2 separate regions of the Homo sapiens genome follow, and region 2 is linked to region 1. Evidence: fine-mapped expression QTL. A gene starts in region 1. The other region holds a variant in brackets. All regions are shown on one strand. Distances are from middle to middle.

Region 1 (12,998 bases):
GCATCCTGTAGTTAATACCCTTATCAACACAAATCACACTATAATTACTTGTGTAATTAATTATCTCCACCACACAAGGCTGTGAGCTTTGTGAGGGCAGGGATCCATGTCTGTCTTGTCATCCACATATCCACAATACCCAGTAGCATGCAGAGTAAGTGCTCAATAAGTATTTATTAAATGGATATTTAATGAAAATCAAATTAACTAGTTTTTCTGCTCAGTGCATCTGGAACCATATATCTATCAATGAACTTCCTAGTTTGGAAATGCTATATAACCTATTCCTTATGGAAGAGCTAGAAAAGTGACAACTGATGACTATATATAAATGGATTATTCTAATGATAGTAGGCTATATTAATAAGAATATTAATAGCTAACTTTTACTAAGTGTTTGTCAGGTAATAGGTGTTGTGCTAACCATTTAACCATCTTTAAACATCTTTCACTTACTCATCACTACAATTTACCACATAGGTACTACTGTCATTCCCATTTCACAGATGGGGAGATTGAGACTTAGAGAATTTAAGCAATTTGCACAAAGACACTCAAAGAGCAAGGGGTGGTGCAAGGATTTAAATTTAATCTGACACTAGAACCTGAGACTTAACTATGCAAGATGATTCTTCACAGACACATGACTAAGTAACACCAATTGACACGAACTGACATTGTTGATCACTCCTTCCTCCTTTAAACATTGTCTTCACCTGGCTTTTAGAAGACTGTACATTCCTGGACCCATCCTATGTCAACAGCTGCTTCTTCTAAGTCTCCACTGCTGGTTTCTCTTTCTCGCTCCCCCAAGTCACATGACTTGATTATCTAGGACATCCTAAAATACATAAAAACACCTCCCAAAAATTGCTCCTAGGAAATGGAAGGCATTTATCCATAGGTGCCCATTCCCCATTGGTGGATCATTGCCTGGGGGTGTTAATGCCACCAAACTTCCCAAGGGCCAGGTGTGTGTGTGTGTGTGTGTGTGTGTGTGTGTGTGTGTGTGTGTCAGGAGTGACGGCATCTCAACCCTATCTGAGCACTGTTCCTGAAAAGGATACTTGCTGATGTTCACAAAACAATGTCAGTGTTCTATCAGGCCAATTTCCTCCAGTTGATACAATATATGGTAGGACCAGTGGAATTCCATGGTCGTGTGTCATTGTCACACCTCTTTTACCATAAAGTGTGTCCTTTAGTTGGAGGCAATACATCAGAAAATCATGTGTTTGGGCTGGGTGTGGTGGCTCACGCTTGTAATTGCACCACTTTAGGAGGCTGAGGTGGGCAGATCACTTGAGGTCAGGAGTTCACAACCAGCCTGGCCAACATGGTGAAACCGTGTCTCTACCAAAAATACAAAAAAATTAGCCAGGTGTAGTGGCAGGCACCTGTAATCCCAGCTACTGGGGAGGCTGAGGCAGGAGAATGGCTTGAACCTGGGAGGCAGAGGTTGTGCCACTGCATTCCAGCCTGGGCAACAGAGTGAGACTCTGTGTCAAAGAAGGAAGAAAGGAAGGAAGGAAGGGAGGGAGGGAGGGAGGGAAAGAGAGAAAGAAAGAGGAAGGAAGGAAGGGAGGGAGGGAGGGAGGAGATGGAGGGAAGGAAGGGAAAGAAAGAAAAAAGAAAGGAAGGAAGAAAAAAGAAAAGAAAGAAGGAAAAGAGAGAGAGAAAGGAAAGAGAGAAAGAAAGAAAGAAAAAGGAAGGAAGAGAAAGAAAGAAAAAGAAAAAGGAAGGAAGGAAGAGAAAGAGAAAGAAAGAAAAAGAAAAAGGAAGGAAGGAAGAAAGAAAAAGAAAGAAAAAAAGAAGGAAAGAAAGAAAGAAAGAAAGAAAGAAAGAAAGAAAGAAAGAAAGAAAGAAAAAAGAAAGAAAGAAAGGAAGGAAGGAAGGAAGGAAGGAAGTCAATCAATCATGTGTTTGTAACTCTGTTATATAATGGTACTGGCAGAGGCACCATGAACAAGACCAGTCATATCAAGGGAAGTGTCAGTTCCGTAAGTACAAACCACGGCTCTCTCCAGGAAGGAAGGACTTTTGTGTAATTGCTCTCCTTATGGAATTTACCATCAATCTTTGCTGCTGATGGGCTGGACATCCAAAGAGGCAGTAGTCATATCGGCTTTAGTAAGAAAGAGCCTTAATTGTTGGGCCATGCACATGTCCTCCCCTTAATATCACTAAGAAAGTCCTTGTTGTCATCTGACTGCAAAGTAACCCACTTCCAGAGTTCTGAGGAGCTGCATTCTAGACTTTCTTCTTACATCAAATTTCTTAGCTTGGTTTCCCTCAAAACCTGAGACAACTACTTATGTGGGGACAGGTAATTTGGGATGTGATCCTAGTGAGAAACAATGAGAGAATGGAAGGGAGAATATAGACATAATACAAGAATGTGTTATTGAAGTTGCTGTTGTGAGAAACCAGAACCCAATTTCACTGGGACTTTTTGAAAAACACACAGAATGGCCTACAAAACTATCTTGCTCAAGTGTAAGAAGCAAGAGCATTTATCCATCAGTGACTGTCACCCCTTGGTTGAAGGGCCCCAGATGTGTTGACTTACCAGCACTTCAAAGCTGTGCAGGACAGGAGCTGAGAGAGCTACTGCTGGAATGTGTGAAGTCCGAAGAACCTCAGGGAAGAAAGCAAAGAGGCCTGGTAAATGTGGGAGAGGAGAAGCTGTCAGGGAGAAGAATGTGTAAGATTGCATGAAACTGCCCCCCACAACCAAGTCAGAAATGAGAGGTGATGCTCAGAAGATGTGAATCAAGACACCAAAGGTTTCTGATACTACAGAATTATTAATTTCTTAAAAATTTAAAACCAATTCATAGGACCAGGCGCAGTGGCTCACGCTTATAATCCTAGCACTTTGGGAGGCTGAGGTGGGTGGATCACTTGGGGTCAGGAGTTCGAGACCAGCCTGGTCAATAAGGTGAAACCCCATCTCTACTAAAAATACAAAAATTAGCCGGGCATGGTGACAGGCGCCTATAATCCCAGCTACTCGGGAGGCTGAGACAGGAGAATGGCTTGAACCCAGGAGGCAGAGGTTGCAGTGAGCTGAGATGTGCCACTGCACTCCAGCCTGAGCGACAGAGTGAGCCTCTGCCTCAATCAGTCAATCAGTCAATAAAAAACAATTCATAGCTGCAAGTCTTTAATTTTGTTTACCACGTGGTTATCACAGGAGTAAATGGGAAGTATTGTAAGAGAGTCGATATTTATTAAACACCTACTCTATAATAAGTACTACTCCAGATAGTCTCTCCTACATTTCACATTTGACATGTAAAAATATTTCACTGACATGGTAGTCAGAGAAGAGCCAGGTGACATTTGAGCAGTGACTGGAAAAAAATGAGGAAGCAAGCTCTGTGGACATCTGAGAGGGCAGTGTTCCATGCAGAAGGAACAACAGCTACAAAGCACTGATGCTTGCTGTGCTTGGGGGCAATTAGAAAAGCTCTGAAGTGTAGCTTGGATGTGATCCATCAAGAATAAGTTCAGTCTTAAAAGTCAGGGTAAGAATTTTGAACTTTAATCTGAGTAAAATGGTAAACCGCTAAAAGGTTCTGCACAGAGGAGTGGCATATTCAGGTTCTAATGGGATCACTCCAGCTGCTGAATGCAACTATGTAGAGAAATAAAGGGAATGCAGAAAGCTATGCTCACGGCTACTGCAATTGTCCAGGCATGAGCAGATGGTACCTTGTAACACCTCTTGTACCTTAAGTTGTTTTATACTGCCATTTACTTTCTCATGGAAACCCCTAATTTCTTCAGGACAGGGAGCTCATACGCATAGTTTACGATATGAGCTATACATATGCCCATTTAATAAATACTTGATAAATAACCACCATATAAATGGCTAACAGTAGTACTAAATTCACATTATACAGTGACGATATGGCATCACTGAAAGGTTTTGTCATTTACTATCTCTTTAGGAAATTTAAGTTCTCTAAGCCTTAATTCCAACATTCCTAAGTGTTGCTAACACCAGCCTAACAACGTTGGCAAGTATTAAACGAAAATGTCTACCCAGACCTTTTTTTCTCACCACCAAAGTAGGTGCCTTGCTTTCTTACAAACCCTCGATCCCAATACAAGACACAAATGCTACCCTTTCTGAAGAGTGCCTGTAAAATTTTAAAAGTTGTCCATAACTGACTGGATTCTAACATACATATTAATCCAATTCATCCCTTTCTGGTATTCAAGGCATGCTTTCAAAAATTGTCCATCTTCGTTACAGTAATATTTTCCTTAATTATTCTCTGAAAACAGCTCATCCCCAAACCGTCTTGGTTTTTACGTTATTACATCTCAGTGGTGATGGATGAGGCCCTAAACGCGGGGAAAACCTTTTACAAAAGTTTTGATGGCTGGTCCTCAAGCTTTGAGATTTACCTTCCAAGAATTAAGCAGCACTATCGAAACAATGCTGGCAACATTTTTATGAGGTTGCAAGGACCACGGTTGCTGCAGCTACAGGATGAGTTATAACGTCAGAAGCAACCCAAGCGTTACTTCAGGCCCATCTTCACCGGAGAAGCCCGTATGAATCAGGCAAAAACATAAAAACAGGTTCTGTGACTTTGCCGTATCTCATTTAGATCAAGTAGCACGCAGAAGGAAGACAAGGATTTTAAAATCTGGCTCCAACATTCTCCACTTGGTCGCGTTCTCAAATCTCAGCCCAGGGCCGCTGACGTAAAGTCGCCTCTCTCGTGGGCACCACGGGCTCGAGGGTAGCCGGCAGCTGAAACCCGAGGGGCTTCAGAGGCTTGGAGGCCAGGAGCAGGCAGAGCGCCGATGGGATAATGAGATTCTCCAGCAGATCGGCGCTCACCGACCTACTCCATTTCAGTGGGTAGAGGTAAAGGCTGAAAGGCGACCCTCGCACCGCCCGGCCCACCTAGGCAGTGCCGGCCTAGCGTCTCTACCCCATAGAGCATGCGCGGGAGGTAACGGCCCGCCCGCCACCGGCCACACAGGCCTGTCGGGAGGCGGGGCCACGCGTCTGCGCACGCGCGCAGGGACACATAGGCGGAAGTGGCCTGCGGGCGCCGGAGTTGAGAGTGCTTTCCGGGGAGGCGACCGCCGCGGTGGAAAGTGCAGGAGTGGGCGAGGAGGAGGAGGAAGAGGAGGTGATGGCGACGGACCAGGGGAGGGGGAGATGCTCCGTCTAGCTCAGACGCCACGCAGGCTGCCGTCACCCTTCCGGGTGACATACCGGCCTTGGGGTACGCGTGCCTTCGGGGCCTTTCCTGTGTTTGGGACCCAGATCTCCTCTCCTCCAGAAAACCTTGACACTGCCCATCTTCCTCATCCAGAAGGAGCGTTCGAGGAATGGATGAGGTCGGGATGGAAGAAACGGGTGATTCCCTTTTTTGAAAGAGCGGAAACCGGCCGGGCGGTTTCCAGGGAGGAGCATCTGTTCCTCCTCGCCCGTTTTTCGCCCTCGGGCTGGCGAGAACTCCCTCAGGTCCCAATCCGTGGACTCGCAGGGGTGAGGTGACCTCAAGGGGTCTTTTACGCTGTTCTCGGGGTCTCTGGAGAACTGTCAGTCACCTGGATACCTCTAGACTGTATTTACAGTTAACTGTTTCCTCGTTCCGTGTTTATTAAATAGGGGCACTCCAAGGTACTCTTTTCTCCATTTGGCTTGCAGTAGAATGTGATTGTTCTGGCTGGGCTATTAAGTTTATGGCATAAACTTCCACTAGAAGTTCTGCAAGTTTCCTCCAGTCTTTGCAACTGAATTATCTCTCCCGTCTTTTTATTATTTAAGGAATATTGAAAGTAAAAGATGGAATGATTTGGTGCGCTAACAAAATCTTAAGTGTTGAGTATCTGCATTTTTTCTACATTAGGATATCAGAAGCCTAGAATTGTTTTTTGATTAAACGTTTTTCTAAGTGAATTGAGATAGTTTGGAACTTGGAAGAGAGGCAGCATTTCAAAATAATTTAGACAGCGTTATTTTTACTTAATTACTTAATATATAAAGTCCTAGTGTTAACTTTTTCTCTTGGAAAAAAAAAAGAATAGTCTTCAAACATTAGCACAGGGTTTCTCCACCTTTGTGTAATGATGTGTGTACAAAGAAATGAGATGGAACTTTGTTTTTTCTGTTTTATAATCGTACACCATAGGCCATGATTGATTCCGGAGCGCAGTTAATCAAGGCATAATGGCATGGTAAGATTCTTTTATTTGTAACGTTGAGTGTGGCAAAGTATAGTTAAAATCACGTTTTTTCAGGTTAATGACACCGTAATGACTTTTTTTTCATATTCTACCTTTTTTTGGTGTGGGACTTTTGTCCTTCAGGTCGGAAAACTCAAAAATAAACTGAAATAATTGTGACTTCAATAGGTCATTGTAACTCAACATTATCACTAATTTTAATTTTTAAATATACATTGTATGCCGGAAATGCTACCTTTTTATTCCATTTTAGCAGTTGAAGTTGAATATCTGTGTTGAATTTAGGAAGAGGCCTCAGGCAATTATACACACCTGTGATTTTTAAAATATATATATATATATTTTAGTTTCACTGATTACTGTGAGCTTCAAAAGCAAAGCACAATGTTGATCATTTAGTCTGAAAACTAATTTTAATTCCATGCTTCATTTTTGCTCCTTGCATCACAAGGAGTTTGGCCCATTTTTTTTTTTAGATGATGGTTAGTATCAGTCATTAATGTTTGAAGTGGAAGGGATATGGCAGACATTCCCCAATGATCACAGTTATTAGGTATCAGAGGTCTTTATCAGTCACACTTTCTCACCAGTGATGTTCTTATTAATAAAACAGCATTCTAAATGCAAGGCTTTGGTGGGCAAGTTTTATGAGACTGATGCCTCAGGCAGAGGAAACAAATTTATTTTCATGTTCATTTCAAATGTTTTGTGGGGAGTTTCAGTAGCAATGTCGGTATTTTGGCATACATGTAGAAAAGACAGTGCTAGAGAGATTTCATTCTGCACATATGGCCTAGATCTGCAGCACATAAAGTTGCCAAGAAGTGTATTAGAAGTGGTAAAGTGTTGGAAAGGAGCTGAATAACGTTGATTAAATAAATGGTGCTTGCTAAACTGTGGTAGAGTCCTTCATTTAATCTTACATTTTTGTTATGTGCCAGAACATCATAGGAAGATATCTCTTGCCTTAAGGATTTCATAGGCTTTTAGGAGAAACAAGTATAAAAACGAAAAAGCTATACCATTATCATTTAGGAATTTGAAAAATATGTATAATATGATTGAGTCCAGGACATCAACTCGTTTTTAACTTCGAGGCCTTATTCATGGATGCAGCATGATCAGACTTCACGTTGAGCCATGTGACAGATGGGTCAGAAAGGGAAGAATTGATTATAAACAGTCTCGTAATCTAGGCAAGAGAAAATGGCTGCCTGATGGAGTAGGGTCCGAAACAGATATTAGATATAGTTATAGAGGTAGAGTTAACAGGAATCTTGGCAAAATATAGAATGTGAGGAAAAGGAAAGATTCTTAAGATGACTCCCAGATTTTTAGCTTGTGTTTCATACTAGGTACTGTTAAGTGAGATTGGGAATATAGGAACAAACAGTAGATTTGTTTTGAGGGGAAAATAATCAGCTTTGGCCATTTTAAATATGAAGTGCCAGCAGAGCTTATGAGTAGAGGTATCAAAGAAGCATTTAGACGTAGAGCTCTGGATCTCAGGAGAGAAGGCAGCGTTGGAAATTCAGGTCTGTATTTCCAGCTGCACATCAAAGGGGTGAGTCAGCTTGAGCACACCATATCACCCTAGCAATATTTCTAAAAAGTTGAAGGATGACAGCTAACACACTTATGGACTGTCATATGCCAGGCAATTTTACATTTATTTCATATAGTCCTAACCAAAATCCTGTGATAGGCACATTTTTAACTCCTCCCACTTTTGAAGGTGCAGAACCTAAAGCTCAGAAAAGTTAAACGATTTGCCCAAGGCTCCTCAGCTAATAAGTAGTAAAGCCAGATCTTGAACTCATATCTGTCAAAATTCCAAAGCATGGGGAAAGCATTATGCTATACTGCTTTCTTATACTATTACCTATAATTGTATTGAGTCATTACAATATGCTTGGCAGTTTACTAAATTACAAACATCTCAGAAGAAGGTGACTTTGGGAAAGCGTGACCTTCTGGAGAAATGTTTTGATGCCAATAAAAGCAGGAAAGAAAGATATTTTCTAGAAGTTTTATTTATTCTGTATGTATGTGTAAATATGTAAGCATTATTTGTAAATTTTCCCCACTCTTTTTCTATAAGATTTTCAGTTTTGCTCATAAAGTTTGCCAGTACCACCATCCATTTCAAAAATCGTATCCAAGCAGAAGGTGAGTGATTGCAAGCTGAAGTTTGAGGGTATCAAGAGGAAGGATCAGTTTATTTGGTTCATCTGAATATCAGGTCAGAGTATATGCCAGGTACCAAGGACACAGAGACAAATAAGATTTGAATCTTGCCTTTCAAGTTCTCTTTTCTAATAACTGGGGGGATTAGTGATGGTGTCACAAAGGAGGGGATATTAAAGCTGAACTTCCAAACCTGACCTTGAGAAAGAAGACCTCAGGCTGAAAGGACATCATGAACAGAAGGCAGCGGTGTTTTAAAGTCCCTGGTGTATTTCAGGAATGAAACATGGGTGGTTTAGGGCTTTATTGAGAGTGGAGGGAGAGCAAACTTAGAAACCTATGTAAGGCCGGGTTTATTTGAATGGTGCACTATATCCATGCTCACACATAGAAAAGAGTAAATTGTTAAGGTTTTCGTCTCTTCTACATTCAAGCACAGGTTTGACCAAATATTTAGGAGAGATAATTTAAAGCATGGTTTTAAAAGAAAGTCACATCTCAAAGATACCCTGCAAGATTACATAAAAAGTCTTACAAATGACAGTGATTGAAACATAATGTGGGAAGCAAGAACAAAGGAAAGTGAAGAATAAACAAGAGGAACACAGTAAACTTCATGAAACAACTTTTCTATTTAGAAATAAGGCAGGTGCCCTATAAAATGTTGTGGTGGCTGCATATTTTTAGTTACAAGTGGTATTCAGATCCTTGACCCCTCCTTTAATTCCTAAGGATGACCTGGTTAACCTCTGTAAATTAGCAAACTAGAAGTGATCATGAAGAGGCGACTCTAATTTTGGCCATTTTAAGCCATCTTGTAACAGTTTAAAAAAACATTACCAAAGGAAAACTCACTGTCAAAATTATTCTTATTTCTCTTCGTGCCGCAGAGTTTAAATTTTTGTTCCCACTGGAATTAAAAACAGATGAGTCGTTTCTAAGAAAATAACTTTTTCTTTTACATAGGTTTATTCTATACTTTGTCATAATTCTTCAGTCTTTCCTCAGTCTTTACATGGAGTTCATTTTTTCAGTTTATATAAATCCAAAGAGAAATTGATGGCTTCATAATTTTTTTTAGACTGACAAAAAATGACATGTTTTCTCCAGCCTTTTACATCCCAGAAGAATGTAAATTAAAATGATTTGTTCCAGAGGAAGAAAACATTTTTTAACCTAAGAGATGCTACTGCTGAAGCATATTGTGCTTTCTGTAGTCTCTGATAAATCTAGCTTTTTAAGGACCTTAGGTTTGGGGTTTCTTTGTTTTGTTTTTTTCATTTATTTTCTAGAGACAGGGTCTGGCTCTGTCGCCCAGGCTGGAGTGCAGGGGTGCAATCATAGATTACTGCAGCCTCAAACTCCTGGACTCAAGTGATCATCCTGCCTCAGCCTCCCAAGTAGCTAGGACTACAGGCATGCACCACCATGTCCAGCTAATTTTTTTATTTTATTTTATTTTATTTTATTTGGTAGAGAGAGGGTCTTGCTATGTTGCCCAGGCTGGTCTTGAACTCCTGGTCTCAAGCAACCTCTCTGCTTCAGCCTCCCAAAATGTTGGGATTACAGGCATGAGCCACCACACCTGGCCTTCATTTTTTTAGTTTATTTTTTAAATGTCATTAGCAAATATATCTTAGAATTGTCTTAGTATTTAAAGGAGAATTACTTATTTTTTACTCCTCTACAAGTGAAGATTGACTTTAATGTTGAGAATGTTATGCATCAACTATATATAGACACAAAGACATGTTTAGTTCTTTGATGAAATAACTAGCTTTTGTTGCTGTGGAAATAAGTATGGTTTATATTCAGTTTAATGATGTACTAATCTTTATCAGCTGTAGACAAATTGTTTAAAGATTGTAGGCATATTGTTTTTGGTGATTTGGAACCTAGAATACAGGAATTAATATACTAATATCCAGAGAGAAGCAGACATTTGTATAACTTTAAAGTATGATTTGGAATATTATTTGGAGGATTAAACTTTATCATGTAAATGTTTTAATTGCTTATTTCCTTCTCTAGGACTTGACACAGCAAGCAAAAGACATACAGAACATAACAGTCCAGGAAACCAACAAAAATAACTCTGAAAGCATTGAATGCAGCAAAATAACAATGGATCTCAAGTTCAACAATTCCAGGAAATATATTTCTATCACTGTGCCATCCAAAACCCAAACAATGTCACCACACATCAAGTCAGTTGACGACGTTGTGGTACTTGGCATGAATCTCAGCAAGTTTAACAAACTTACTCAGTTTTTCATATGTGTTGCTGGAGTTTTTGTATTTTACCTAATTTATGGGTATTTACAGGTAAAAAAGTTATATGTTTGTAATATGTTAATTATTTATAATAATTGCGGTCAGTATGGGCATTTACTAGTTTTGCCCAAGATAGTCACTTAGGGGATACTGGCTGATTCATAAATTTGAATTTTTTAGTATAGAGTAGAAAAGAGCTTCTTAACAGATCAAAATTCAAGAGTTAAATAATTTAAGTGGGGAGGAGGCATATGTAGAGACTATCTTGAAAAATTTTCATTATGAAAATTAAGTTTTAAATATTTAACAAAATGTGTGCTTCCAAGAGAAAGCAATGATTCACGTATTGATTGGTATCTTGGAATATTATTGAATGATAGTGCAGTTTACTTGATTCTTGGAGCTCAATAATAAAAGATCATTTTTGCAAAAATGTATCAGGATATTTTATGGTTTTCTAAAGGTATCTCTTTAATCCTATAATATTTGAATTATTTCTTTTTTAAACACCTCTTATATTCTCATTCTTATTGGTTTTGTCTTCTAACTTTGCCAGAATCTTATTGTTCTGTGATTTTTTGCTGGCACAAAACATTTCTGATACTGCAACAATTTGTCTTATATTTACATTATATTTGGAAAAGTTATATACCTTTGGCTAGGAGCAGATTTCTGACCTTCAAAGACATGGGCTGGATGGGTGAGGATCCAGGCTAGTGAAAACAGGATGTTGGAATGGGTTCTAATTTTATGAATGGTCATTTAATTAGTGGATATTTTCCCATAACTTGAGAAAACCTTTGTAATTCAAGGAAAGGAAAATGATGTATTTTCTTAAAACACAGATATTTCCAGTATTCTTTAGTACTAAAAAGTTAGTGAATTTAAAAATTGTTGTATTCTTTTTCATTGTCTTGTAGAGATGATCATCAAGGGAAATGTAAGTGAACATGGAATTGTGACTGTTTTTTAGTTAGCTTGCAAGAATGCTATGAACAATATTAATGTAAAACAAAAATGAATTAAAAATTTTAATATTTATAATAACTGATATTCCACTAGTAGGTGATATAAAACTTGAGATGCCACAATGAAGAACAATTAAAAATAGAGATTAGAATTTCTTGTTGAGAAACATTTTAGAAACATTTTTTTCTTCAGCATACCACTGTTACCAAATAGCTTGGGAACAGAGTTAGCCATTGCAATGGAAAATGAATTTGAAATTCACCCTGTAAGTGTCATTAAATAAATTTTCTCTAATTAATAATCAGATATTTTAGTTTATAATTGGTTTATGCAAAGTTTTTTAAATTACACAAACCCCTGCTAATTGTATTTATAACTTAACCACTTTGATTTTGTAAAAACTGACATTGCTACTATTACTTATAATTACATATCAAAATAGTTCAGAGAAAATGGTTGGGGTTTGGTAATGAAGTGTTTTTTATAGATGTATGCATATTCATACATACACTTCATTTATTCAATTTGATTTATTGATCAATTTGACTTATTCAATTAAAATTAAACCAGATAACTATTAGAATAACTCTTAGTGACTTGTTAAGAATGGCTTATTAATAACTGATATAAATATTGCTTTATAATATAACATGTTTAGGCAAATTAACCATTTCCTCTAAAAGAAGAAGGTTTATATCATCTATGGCACAAGAATTTCAAAAAATAACATTACCAATATGAAAGAGCTTCTAACCTCTCTAATTTACATTTTGTTGTTGTTGGAGGTGGGGCTTGGTTTCTTTAAAAATGTTGTGTTTCTAAGAATTTATTTTTAGGAAATTAGTGTGCTGCCTTGGACTTAACAGTGTTCATGTGTCTTTTGACAGGAATTAATATTTTCAGTGGAGGGTTTTAAGTCCTGTGGCTGGTACCTTACCTTAGTGCAGTTTGCCTTTTACTCCATATTTGGCCTAATAGAACTTCAGCTTATTCAGGACAAAAGGAGGAGGTATGTGGTTTGTTTTTATTTTTTGATATTTCTATATTAGTTGAATTTTTTTGGCATACTGAATATGCATGAAATTTATACTTCTATTAACAAAACATGTGATAGGCACGAACTCTTAGTGTAACTAACTTAATACTAAATACATTTTATTCATTTATACACTGAAAAAAATAAAGTCTTAAATGCAGTATTACAAAATAAAAAAATATTAGCTTTAGGCTCAACTTAGTGTTATATGTTCTTACAACATGATAAAAAACACAATGTACATACTTGATTTGTATAAATTCTGCTGAAATAGGTGCAGTTACTGATTTGTAGTACAACTAACATC
Region 2 (12,998 bases), 330 kb before region 1:
AGAATTTAAGATCTATGTTTGCAGGCTGAGGAGGGCTTGAAGAGTTATACTCAAGTATATGAGAAGTTATGTGGTGACTTGCTTTAATTATAATATTGGGCATTTCTTGGTTTCCTCCAATATAGTTTGATCTTTCCCCTATCTTATCAGCTACCCATAACATGCTTCCCAAAATCGATATGCATTTCATATGAAATAATTGAGAACTGTTTCAGCTTTTAGATGTTGAAGAATTTAAATCACATAACATAGTCCCTTCAACTTACAGACAGGAAACAAATAAAGAAACACTAAATGGTTCCTCTAAGGTCATACAGTATTTATGTGAAAGAAGAAGAAGTTGAACTTAGCTAGTATTTGGTATATGAGTCTAAATCTTTCTAGTCTATTTAAGTCTGCCCTTTGTTTCTGGATAAAGAGAGCCAATTATACTTTCTAGTGTTTTGTGAGATATGTACTATTGCATAAGGTTCATTTCATAGAGATGTTTTATGATTTTACAATTTGAAACTACTAGCTAGGGTTATTAATTTCTTGTTAATCCTATCCTAGCACCCAGTCAGGCTGAGATTCACAAAGGTTTGGAGTTGGAAAAAAAAACCTTAGAGATCCCGTATAGAGACATTTTTTGAACTGTAAGGCAGTTTCACTAGTAGTCCTTAACTCAGGGACCACAGAAGAACCAAGCCATAGGCTTGCCTATGTCACATAGTGAGCCAGAGATGGTCTGGATTAGCACTAGTACCACCAATACCCAGTACGGTTCCTTTTTCACTCTAAAGAAGACTTCTTAGGACAAGAATCTTGACACTTTCTCAGTTTATATTTTTCAAGTGAAAATGGAATTGCAAAATTGGACCATAATTTGCATTAAAGTCACCCTAAGCCCTTAGCCCCTGTAGCTGGATGCAGGAGCAGCAGAACGTGTCAGCATGGATTTGTCTTCTTCTGTTTCTTTGGTGTCCTTCCTTACAGTCAACCACTGAAAAGTTTCTACATGGAGAGATAGTTTGTTCTTGAAGCCCCTTGAACTGGCACCATCCTTTCCAATATTTTCTCTGGTTCTTTCATGTAAGTGTTATATCAACTTTTGAAAGAGTGTTGGTCTGTTAATCATTTCTTCTACTACTAGAAAATTAAACAACATCTTTAAATCTCTTGGGTCTACAGTCTTTAGTTATTTTAACATTTAATACAGAAACTAGGACAATTCTACCCCTAAAACATCTTATTTTCAAATCTACTTGCTTCTGTTTCCAAAGTTCAAATAAAATATAGAGAAAAACCTAAATGGAAAGGTTCCTGTTTGTCATGGCTATGGCTAATCTGGCTATGTATTTAGAGCTTATGAACTGTGCCTGTAGGGCAAGGATGCAAAAAGTTAGGATTTCAGAAAGCCCCCAAGACACACAGCCAAATCTGTAATGTTTAATGAGATCACCTCCAGATGTAACTAACATTAGGAATGTCCAGTTGTGCAATATTATTTCTTTTATTAGCAGGTAATTTAGGCTTCTGAGCAAATTAACAAAATCAGCAGAATAGTCAATATTGAGTTGGGCTATCACTGGTACACTTAAGAAAGAGCTCTTCTGAATTTTAGGAGTTAGCACCTATTCAAAAATAAAGTATAGATTTGTCATTTTTATTTTTTCTTATCCAGTTCCCAGGCACTGGGAGAATGAATGGGATGACAGAAAATAATACAGACCTGAATTTGATAGAACCATGTTTGAAACCCAACTTTGTTGTTTCTAGCTATTATACTTTAGGAAACTCCTCTCAACCATATTTTTCCATCTATAAATTTGGAATCAATATGCAGTCTATAAGATTGCTGTGAAGAACAAAGTAGATAATTGACATGAAAAGGTCAAATACAATACTTGGCATGTGGGAGAGGCTGTTTCAGAAAGCGTGGCCCAAGATTAACTAAAGAAAAAGTGGTGATATGTATAATACTAACAATTGAAATATCTATGGTAACCTTTGTTTCTCCAAAAATGGGATGTTCATAACTCTAAAGAAAAAGTATCAACCCCAGAATTTTGGTTTCTTATTTACAAGGATTTTGAAGGCAGCAGAGCCAAGTTATATAAACTCCTCCAGAGATTTTTGTCTGGTTTTTTAAACTTGTTTATCTGAGACTATATCTGATTGAATTGTCATAATTTTAGATTGTATATTAAACCTGAAGAAATTTAAAATAGATACACTAAAATTCCATTCCAATCTCTAAGTTAGAATCATTCAACACCATCAAGTGCTTGGAACATTCATTTCAACACTTGGCCCCAGCTCAGCAGGGCCTGGACTCGCAATCACCCTAAGCTTTATGAATTAGAGCCAAATAAGGCATTAAAGAATCCCAAATACTCAGTCTTGGGTAAAAAATGGTGGTTATCAGTGTACAAATGTGACTCCATGTATCTCTAACATCTATATTACTTCAGTGAAACAGCAACAATCACATTAATACAAAACACAATCTAGAAATACCTCAATATTTATTAAAACAACACAAACAACAATAAATTTTGTAAGACTTTAGCCATAGCACTTGACATATGATAGAGGTCATGCTCATAAGTAGTTACTTTAGAAACTGTTAATCCCTTTTCGCAACCAGTCACAGGAAAGCCAGTAAGATTCATTAACCATTAAAGCTTCAGCAACTGATTTTACTACACCATTTTCAGAAAGAGCAGGCTGGATAGAATCAGCATAACTAACTTCCTAAGTTAATCCATATATTCAATGCAACAGAATTTTTTCCTAGAACTTGACAACCTTATCTTAATGTTTATACGAAAGAGCTAAAAGGCTACAAATGATCAATTCTATTTTGAAGGCAAAAAGGGTAAGGGATTCATCCTATCAGATACACAATGTTTTAGAAGGACCAGGAGGAAGGGGAGGTAAAAGAGGAAAAACTCATGTAACTATGACAATGTATATTAGTGCAGGGCTAGGGAAACAGAGCAGAGAAACAGAACAAAGTGCCCAAGGATGTTTATATAGAAAATACGATTTAGTATTCAGAATAAAAAAAATCTTACAAATCTATGGACAAAACCCAGTGCAAACATTTCAAACTCTCTTGTTATAAATGAAATGAATATTTAAAACACAATGATCTAACTCTTCACACTCATCAGACTGACCAATATTAAAAGTTACTTAAAAGTGCTAGGATATGGAGAAAGAGAAGAAATTGTCAATAGCTAGTAAAGCTGAAGATGGGTATAACCTACAGCCAAGAATGCCACACTTGGAAAAACCTTCTACATGTGAATGTAAGAAAACATACACAAGAATATTCATTGCATCATTGGCTGTGATTAGGGAATAGACTTAGGAACAAGATGACCTGAACATCAATCCTGGTACCAATCCTTATTAACTCTGTGAATTCAGGCAAGTTACCAACCTCTCTGTGCTGTAGTTTCCTCATGAGTGAAACAGCCTCACAGCTATTGTAAGGATTAAGTGAGTTCATACAAATGGAGCATTAAAAATAGTCTTTAAATTTAATGTTTACTATTGTTTAATTATATTTATTTAACATATACTTGTTATTCCAAGTTTACTAACCTACCACAATAGGAAATGATTCTATTTCCAAATCAGAACTTCATTCTTCCAAGCTACACTAGGTCACATGGAAATCACTGTTCTTCAAGCCTTCAAACCTCATTTCAGCTGCGGAAAAATTTCCTCAACAAAAGCTTAAGCAGAGGAAGGTAATGGGGTCTAGGATAAACCTGATCTTTCAGAAGTCAGCATGACATGGTTAATCTCCATCATGGTACCCAGATTTCAAGGGTTAGTAGAAATAAGCAAAATTAAAGAAAACCAGATGCACCAAATTCTAAACCTAAGAACTGGGGAGACTAGGGAATGCTCACGTTTTTGAAAGGAAGCCCTCTAATTCCAATAAAGTGTAGTTCCCCCACTTTAATTCAAATTACGATTTGGTTTACAACAAATACACACACATACACAGCTTGCTGAAATTTTTTAGAAAATGTACAATGTAATGAAGTGATTTTTGTACTTGAAATCTTTATTTTATAATCACAAAAGTGATAGGAAAATTAAAAATATTAAAAACACAGACTTACAAAGAGTCAAAAAATTAAAAATTATCTTAGCCTCTTTCCTTCACTCTAATGATTTCTTTCCCTGACATTTTATACACACACACACACACACACACACACACATACACACACGCATACCCCACAGGGTATTTTAAAAGCACATGAGATTGCAATATTCATTACATATGCATAAGACCAATTTTAGTTTCATTCTTTCTTATCCATGTGTATATCCAATTATCCCAATATCATTTATTAAATGACTTCCCACTGACTTAAAATGCTATTTTTATTACAGTTGTAGTTTTTTTCCTGGAATCTAGTCTATTCTATTGATCTATTAGTCTATGCCAGTGCCAAAAACCACATAATTTGATTTACTATAGTTTTATATTACATTTTGATGTCTGTAGAAAAAGTTCTCCTTCACTCCTCCTTTAAAATTTTTCTTGGCCATTACTATGGTTTCTTTCCCTCACCTCATCTTTATGATTGACTTACAAAGTTCCATAAAGTATATTCTGGAGATTTAGATTGACACTTCTTTAAATTTATAGATTTATTTGCAAAAATGGGGTATTTTCAATATCCCAAGATACGCTGTAAGAAGAAAAAAGTGGATTACAAAAAATATATACCTTTCTTGAATATTGAATGTCAGAGAAAGGTAATTTTCTAAAGATAGATAAGTGAGGGTACTCATTTTTATTGTGAAATAGGAAGGAAAGGATAAAGTGAAAAATAAAGGCACAAACAATATGACGCATTATAGTTTAACTGATTCGATTTTGAGGCATGTCTCTTTTACCCTGTCTGGACCAAAATTTTCTCATCTGTTAAATAAGAAACTTGGACAGGATGAGGTCTAAGGCCATTTCCAGCTCTATAGTCTAAGATATTCTTACTTTAGACAGGACAAAAGCATGGGCCAAGACACATGCAGCTAAACACCAATCCAGACACACTTTGTGCGTGGCCATGCTTGCACCATATTCTGGGAAGAAAACAGACTTATTGCCCTGCCTACATTTGTGGATTAGTCAGCCAAACTGAAGGAAGGCATTGTCCATCTAATTTTTCACTAGAGAATGTTGAGGCTCAGCAGAATTAAGCAAATTTTCCAAGATCACACAGGTAACAAGTGGCAGAATGTCACTTCAATACTAGATGTGTGATTCCAAGGTTGATTTTGTTCCTGCTGTGTAAAGCAATTCTGAGTGCTTGGTGAGGCAACAATAGAATAAATGGGCAGGTAGATGTCTAAAAATTAAGAGATTAAGGGTATCACATTTCAACTATATATTATCTCCTGACTTCAAAGTAGAAAAATAAGCACTTGCTGAGAAAAAAATAGAACATATTTAGAATTGACCTTTTAAAAATCATCATCGAGACTAGATGTCAGAAGAATTACTTTTAAAAATCAGTGACTTAAGACTGACTTAAACTGACTTCAAGTCTCTAAGGATGAAGACAACAGGAGAAATCATTTTGTACTCTGTTATACCAAATAATACGACCAATAAAATGAGTGTTATCAATATCTTCTACCCTAACTAGCATCTATTGTACTATCTAGCCTATTTATAATAGCACCATGAATGGTAGCTTTTAAAGAATTATTTCCGTAAAACCAATACGTAAAAGAACTATGTTAATAGTAAGAGTTTATATTTACTGTATATGCAGCGTATGCCACGTGTTGTTCAAGTTTTTTACAGATTGCATAGTTAAAGCAGTTTGCACTCTGCCCTTCACCTAGACAGCAGTGTGTGTATTTAAATGCAGGCAACCCAGCCCCCAAACCCGAGATCACTGTGCTCTCACCAAGTAAATTTAATGAACTTCTGGGGAAGAAGAAGAAGAAGAACAAGAAGAAGAGGAAGAGGAAGAAGAAGAGAAACAGGAAGGGGAGGAGAGGGAGGAGGAGGAAGAGGAGGAAGAGAATAGGTCAAGTCACAGTGCACAGTAGGTACTGAATACTCTTCTAAGCTCCTTTAACATATTAACTTCTAACAACCCTTTGAAGTCCAGTCACTGCCTAATTCCTTAGAAGCTGTGTGATATTGGGAGAAGTAACTAACATAACTGAGTTTGACATTAGAAACAAGAATGGTAATACTTAACACAGAGTTTCTGTAAGGT[T/G]TAAATGAGTGAATTCATTTGAAAGTATGCAGCACGTAACTGCTCAATAAATGCTTCCGGTTTTTGCCTTTCTGTACAATATTTTCCATGTAATTTCAGAAAATTTCATTGTCCCCATGTAAAAGAGTAACTTCATGGATCTGAATATTTAAGAGCACCAGAGTTTTCAAATTCATAATTCAATCTAAAAAATCTAATTTGTTCGACTCACTTTTACCTCCTTCTTAATAGTTTGTTTAATAGTTCCTTCTCTCCAACACATTAGGCTAAAAAATATGAGTATCTGTACACCCCACCTCTAAAGTCCCTTTCCAAATAGAAAAATACTTATAAATCTGAAATCAAAGTGATCTTGTGAGAAAAAAGAGGATTCTATTACAGTTTACACACAGTTTACACTTATATAATCATCCACTGATGTTAGTTAGGCTCATGCTAGACCAAGAGTCGCAGAATTTTAGGGCTGGAAGAAATCTGACTTACCTGTACAATAGCTGCATTTTACATATAAGAAAAGTAAATTTCAGAGAAGGTAAGTGGGTTGTCTAACATCACTGAATAGCTTGGGAGGCTCGCCAAGGGCCACAGCCCAGTCCTGTGTCCTGTAAGCATCGAATATGTTGACAAATTTAGTTACTTGGGCATGAAGTGCATGTCATCACACCATGCCCTCTCAGCATTGTTGGTACCAGCTGAACAATTATTAGACAGTTGTCATTACCAAGAATAGGTGGTCTTTGGCCTAGAGTTGTACTCAAACATTGTTTTTTGTTTGTTTGTTTGTTTGTTGAGACAGAGTCTTGCTGTGTCACCCAGGCTGGAGTGCAGTGGTGCCATCTGGGCTCTCTGCAACCTCTGCCTCCCGGGTTCAACCAATTCTCGTGCCTCAGCCTCCCTAGTAGCTGAGACTACAGGCGTGCACCACCATGCCTGGCTAATTTTTGTATTTTTAGTAGAGATGGGGTTTTGCCATGTTGGCCAGGCTGATCTCAAACTCCTGACCTCAGGTGATCCACTCACCTCAGCCTCCCAGAGTGCTGGGATTACAGGTGTGAGCCACTGCACCCAGGCTCAAACATTGTTTTGTAAAGTGATAGGCTATCAGATGCAGAGTAAATATCATGTCATTTGTTCCCCTGTGCTGGCAAAAGGAGTTGAGAAGAGCAAATTGTTGTTATCTCTGCCAAAGAGGAGGAGAGACTTATTAAGAGACAGTAGTTCCTAGACATGCCCAGCAGGACATTTTTTTAAAATTATCTATACTTTCACCCACCTCATGATTTTGGAAAATGTGTGGAACAAACTACATAAGTGAATATATCCTTATATCCATTTGGTAGTTCTATGATCCACCAATAATGAGAATGCCTCAAATCTCCCATTTCAAGTTTTCACTTAAAAGTTTGAAGTCTTCAGATGTTTCAATAGTCCAAAGTCTTAAGAAGTTTCGGAAGCTCAAGTTGGGATCTCTGTTCCTATGAATACCTTACGTTAAAAATGGGATCTGACGTTCAAATATGTTTTACCCCATTTTGTGCATAAAAATGTTCAGGCAAACCCAAATACACTAGAACAACACTCTAAGATGAATTTAATATCTTTTTATGTTCTTAACTAAGGTTTTAGGAAAATGTGATTGTTTCTCACCAATTGTAAGATGCAGCATCAGTGAGAAAGACTGAGGCTGAAAATTCAGTTGGCAAACTTTCACAAAGTTTGGAAGTGTGAAGCAGAGCTGTTTGAGCGCAGGAGGTCTTTTAGATGTAGGGAGTATCTGGATTGATCGATTTCAGAGAGAAATAAAAATGAACAATCCCATGTGTGCCTACGGTAGCAAGCATGTCATACACAGTTTCATTTAGTACAGACTGAAGGTCTCAAAGTAGGTATCAATGACCTGATACAATGAGAGACTTTAAGAAACATGTCCAAGGGACAGAAAACTGTGTTTCATATGCTATTGTTTATATTTTTATGTGTTGAAATGAAAGCATGAACCAATATTTTCTTACATTGAAAATGAAAAGACAAACCAGAATTTTTTTAAAAGGACATCTAAAGGTGAAAGGTAGTGGAAACAGGCATAGAAAGATACAGGGGTAGAAGCTAGACCTCTCTGAATATACCTTGCTCTGTAGAATTTACTTTGGAACCACGTAAATAGGTAAATAGTTCACATAATCATAAACCAAAATTAAATGTTAAAAAGTAATTTGTAATATCCAAAGCCAAATAAAATAAGTTAATTTAAATATGTGTCAAATTGACACCAATAGAAAAAGGGGGATTTTTTCAAGTGACTTTAAGACATAGTATATGACTACACATCCCTAGTGCGAGAGATCCTGTGGGCAAATATAACCACGAAAAAAATCTGTTTTTGCTAAGCATAGTGTGAGCGGTAGTATTGGTATTGCTATTCTGAGACTGTTATGCATGGATTATGTAATACGTCAATTAAGTATGTTGGCATTATTGAGAACTGGAATTTTCACTGTGACTTGGAGATATAATATTGAATGAGGGCAGGTAAAAATTCAGAATCCTGAATTTGATTAGGAAAGATCAGTATAAACTTATTATGCATTTTACCTTAGAATTGTTTACCTAGCACAATCTACTGAAAATGCCTAGAAACTATTAGGTAGCAACAAGCACCATTAGTGCCCAACACTATTTTGCACTAAAAGAAACCAGTTTTCTTCTGAGAAATGACTGATACCAAGCCTAGAGCAAGAAATGTGCAAAATGAGCCTGAAATATTTTGTACATTACAAAGAAAGCTACCAAAGACTTTTAAGGGCGTGTCAAGAAAACTCAGGAGCTAACTTGAACAGACTCCTATATTAGCCAAAGAGACTTTTGAGGCATTGATAGGATAATAACTAAATCTGACTGCAATTGGCTTAAGGTGTTGCCAAAGGCATCAGATATATTTAAACAAATGTGTTCTTAACAATACAAAAAGAACTAGTTGGATATCTCTGGAGGATGATGATATGGAACCAACCAATTATTTTGAAAACTATTAAATAAAGAGAAAGACTCAAGCATTTATCCTGCCTTCCTCTTCATACATATTTTTAGTATTCCAATTAATATAAGAATAAATTTCCATTTTAAACATGTAAATTAAATACAATAAGACTTTACATATGAACTAAAATTTGCATTTACCAAACAAAGCTATTACACCTTGCGATTCATATTTTGTTTCAGTCTTTTAACATTTAAGAACAAATAACTTCAAGCGGTTTAACAAAATGACAGAATTGATGGAATTAAAGTAACTTGTGTTCTGTGTATTCCTCTTTACAGTGACACTGATATGATTATTGATTTAGAATTAAGCACAGGACGATGTAGCACCAGAGGGATTGGAGACACAGACTACACCCAGCACAAGCTCTAATGAATCCAAAGTTTTGCGAACTTAGTCTCAAAATTAAAACATTTAGCCCAATTCTCGTGTGTGAAGCCAACTGTGTAACTGGACTTCTCTGAATTTACTTCTATGTAGAATAGCAGGTTTATTAAAGAATACATAATAAAAATGTGTGAAATTGAAGCCAAGATACATATTATTAAAACTCAGCAGTAACCACAGCAATTATTTAGAACTTAGTCCAACAGAAGATTTTCTTTTTCAGAGACATTATTTAGAATTAGCAACCTTAGTAATAATAAAAATATACCAGCTTTTAGTTAGTTTCAATATTGTTTTAAAATTCTCTTTAGGATTCAGATTACTGTGGGCAAAGCACCCCTTATTGCCTGCACCCAGAACAGGCCACTCCCACTGGCTCTACCCACAGTTGTTGCCACTGGATCTGGGCAACTGACTCCAACATCACAAGAGAGACAACCAGACATTATTCACCTACTAACTGAAATATGAGACCTTGTCCAAAAATAGTTCTTGCTAAAAACAGCAAATATAATCCAGCCTCCAGATTCAACTATAAAAGTGCAGGAAGTACAGAGTTCACAGAAATCAACCAGCAAAATCCAGACGGTAGGGAACCCACACAACAAATGACACAGATTTTTCTTTTTCTTTTTCTTTTTCTTTTTTTTTTTTGAGATGGAGTCTCGCTCCGTTGCCCAGGCTGGAGTGCAGTGGCGCCATCTCGGCTCATTGCAAGCTCCGCCACCCGTGTTCACGCCACTCTCCTGCCTCAGCCTCCCGAGTAGCTGGGACTACAGGCGCCCACCACCACGCCCGGCTAATTTTTTTGTATTTTTAGTAGAGACGGGGTTTCACCGTATTAGCCAGGATGGTCTCGATCTCCTGACCTCGTGATCCGCCCGTCTCGACACAGATTTTTCAACAAATATTGCAGAAGGAGAGAGGAGACTTAAGAGATACATCAACTGATGGCAAACTATGGTCTTATTTGAATCTTGATTCAACACTTTTAACAAATTATCTGAGACAATTGAGAAGATATAAACACTGACTAGCTATTTGATGGTATTAAAGCATCATTGTTAATTTTTACATGTGATAACGACATTACTTTTTAAAAAAATTTTAGACAGAGTCTAGTTCTGTCACTCATGCTGGAGTGCAGTGGTGCGATCTCAGCTCACTGCAACCTCCACCTCCTGGGCTTAAACCATCCTCCCATGTCAGCCTCCAAGTAGCTGGGACCACAGGCATACGCCACCATGCCTGGCTAATTTTTGGATTCTTAGTAGAGACAGGGTTTCACTGTATTAGCCAGGCTGGTCTCGAACTCCTAACCTCAAGTGATCTGCCTGCCTCGACTTCCCAAAATGCTGAGATTACAGACGTGAGCCAACACCCCAGACCCTGACATTACTCTTATGTTTAATAAAATAGCTCTTAAATGTTAGTGATAAATACTAGAGAATGATATAATATCTGATATTTGTTTTAAAATTATCTGACAGAATGGCAGCGAGTGCAAGTATAGATGAAACAAGATTACTATGAGTTAGAAACTATTGAAGTTGAGTGTCGTATAAATGGGACCTTATCATTTCACTCCATTTCGTACATACTGTATATGAAATTTTCTATTAGAAAATGTGAAAAAAACATTTCCAAAGATCACAAAGCTGATGGGAGATTTGAATGGTATGCAACTTGATTTCCTTTTATGGCAAGCAGAAGAAAAATTACAGAAATGAGGAAAGGTACTTGTTTCAGGAAGAGCTGAGTTAGCGGGAAAAGACAGGGCAATTAGCCTCACTCTTTACACCTGAGAAGGAACACTTCTTTGAAATGGGAGACATGGAAAGAAGAATATGTGAAGAAATCTGGATACTGGCACATGTATGTTCTACGGAAAGAGACGGAATGTGGGGATCTTGAAGGCCTTGAGCAATTAACAACTTTGCTTCTGAAGAAAAGTGAAAGGGCCTGAGCAGATGGCCTCCAAGTCTCTTTCTCCGCTTACTTCTACCATATTCTCTCACGTCAATGACAGAGAACAGAACCAGTACCTTTTCAATTTGACTTGCTGTTAATAATGAATTTGAAGGCCAGTAATTACTTTCATTGTTAACTGCTTTTTCTCTGTTTCTCACAATATCTGGTAAAATATGCTCTGAGAATCAGTTTTTCATAATTAGAGGTTCCATACTTGACCTGTAAATGATTCTTGTGTACTATTAAAGACTTGAAGTTACTACTTTACTTGGATAGTTGATAAAACCAGGCTTCACATCATTGTCAACTCATGAAATGGAAGGTCATTCTTGCAATAAATTCCAGTAAATTCTGATGGATTTTTCTTATGAGTAGTAGAAGGTGGTAAGGTTGGTTTTGTGGCAGGGATTTCGACCCTCAAATGTGGTCCTTTAGCTGCAAAAATTTAAGAACAGATGAAATATAGCTCTCATGTGGTAATATCTAGGGTGCCTGAGGCAAAGCTCACTGAGAAGATGGCCTGGCCGACTTGAGAATTCTGAATTCATTGCTTTCTATCTACAACAGCCGTGGGAAGCACAGGAAAGGCAGCACTATTTCTGCTCCACCAAAAATGTGTTTTGTAGCACTTCACCCCAGGATCATGGAGCGGAGTACTTATAGAGACTGACACTTCGATCATACATACATTGACACATCACATTGCATCACATCTCCTGAATTGAATTGATGAAGGAAATCAGAAAAGGGTGCCTACATTCAATAATCTGAATTCTTCGGAGACAGCTCAGTACTCTGCAAGTCAAAAGAAGAATAAATTATTACAGAAGACTCTCCAATGCAGCTGCTTCATATTAAACACTGTCAAATAACTCCCAACTTTCTTTGATCTGAATGAATTCTCCATATTACTTTGGTGACCTTTAGCACATCTCTTTTTGACTTCCATTCTTTCCTCTTTTATTCTATTTCTGCCTATAAATGTTCATTCCTCATTTTCACTATGTAGCATATATAAACTTATGTATCATATAACTGTGTGTATGTGTATATATATATATATATATATATAGAGAGAGAGAGAGAGAGAGAGAGAGAGAGAGAGAGAGAGATAAGATGTTCAGTTGCTTTTATTTTATGAATGGATAAAAAAACAGTAAGTGTTGTAGTAACTTAAAAAAATGATAAAGACACAAGAAGTTAAATAATCTAGCAAGAAATAAAACCATAATGCCCTGGGCTGCTGGAGTATTCTCCCTCTGATGATTTAAGGCATAAAAAAGACAAATCACACAAATTCTGTATCTAATGACTTTTTATGTTTTTCCTAGGAGTAACAGTAATGATTTCAA

What was found. PIP is the estimated chance that this variant, and not a neighbour inherited with it, causes the effect.
Region 2: its variant is fine-mapped to the expression of SLC35B3 in stomach (GTEx, PIP 0.97).

Annotation. Positions count from the first base shown.
Region 1 is chr6:8,427,603-8,440,600 of GRCh38, reverse strand. SLC35B3 (solute carrier family 35 member B3) reads left to right here and starts at 5,056. Exons shown (of 10, transcript NM_001370479.2): 1 at 5,056-5,258; 2 at 10,444-10,737; 3 at 12,543-12,664. The coding sequence starts at 10,537. LOC100506207 (a long non-coding RNA gene) reads right to left here and starts at 4,978. Exons shown (of 5, transcript NR_038980.1): 1 at 4,423-4,978; 2 at 2,570-2,661. RefSeq lists enhancers at 4,659-4,748, 4,829-4,908, 4,849-5,018, 5,219-5,278, 4,775-5,316 and 2 more.
Region 2 is chr6:8,754,229-8,767,226 of GRCh38, reverse strand. All of the region lies in intron 3 of LOC100506207 (a long non-coding RNA gene), which reads right to left. Among named protein-coding and RNA genes, the nearest start is that of HULC, 110 kb to the right of the region's middle. RefSeq lists a cis regulatory region at 5,114 and an enhancer at 5,030-5,199. The variant T/G (reference allele first, on the strand shown) is at 6,249.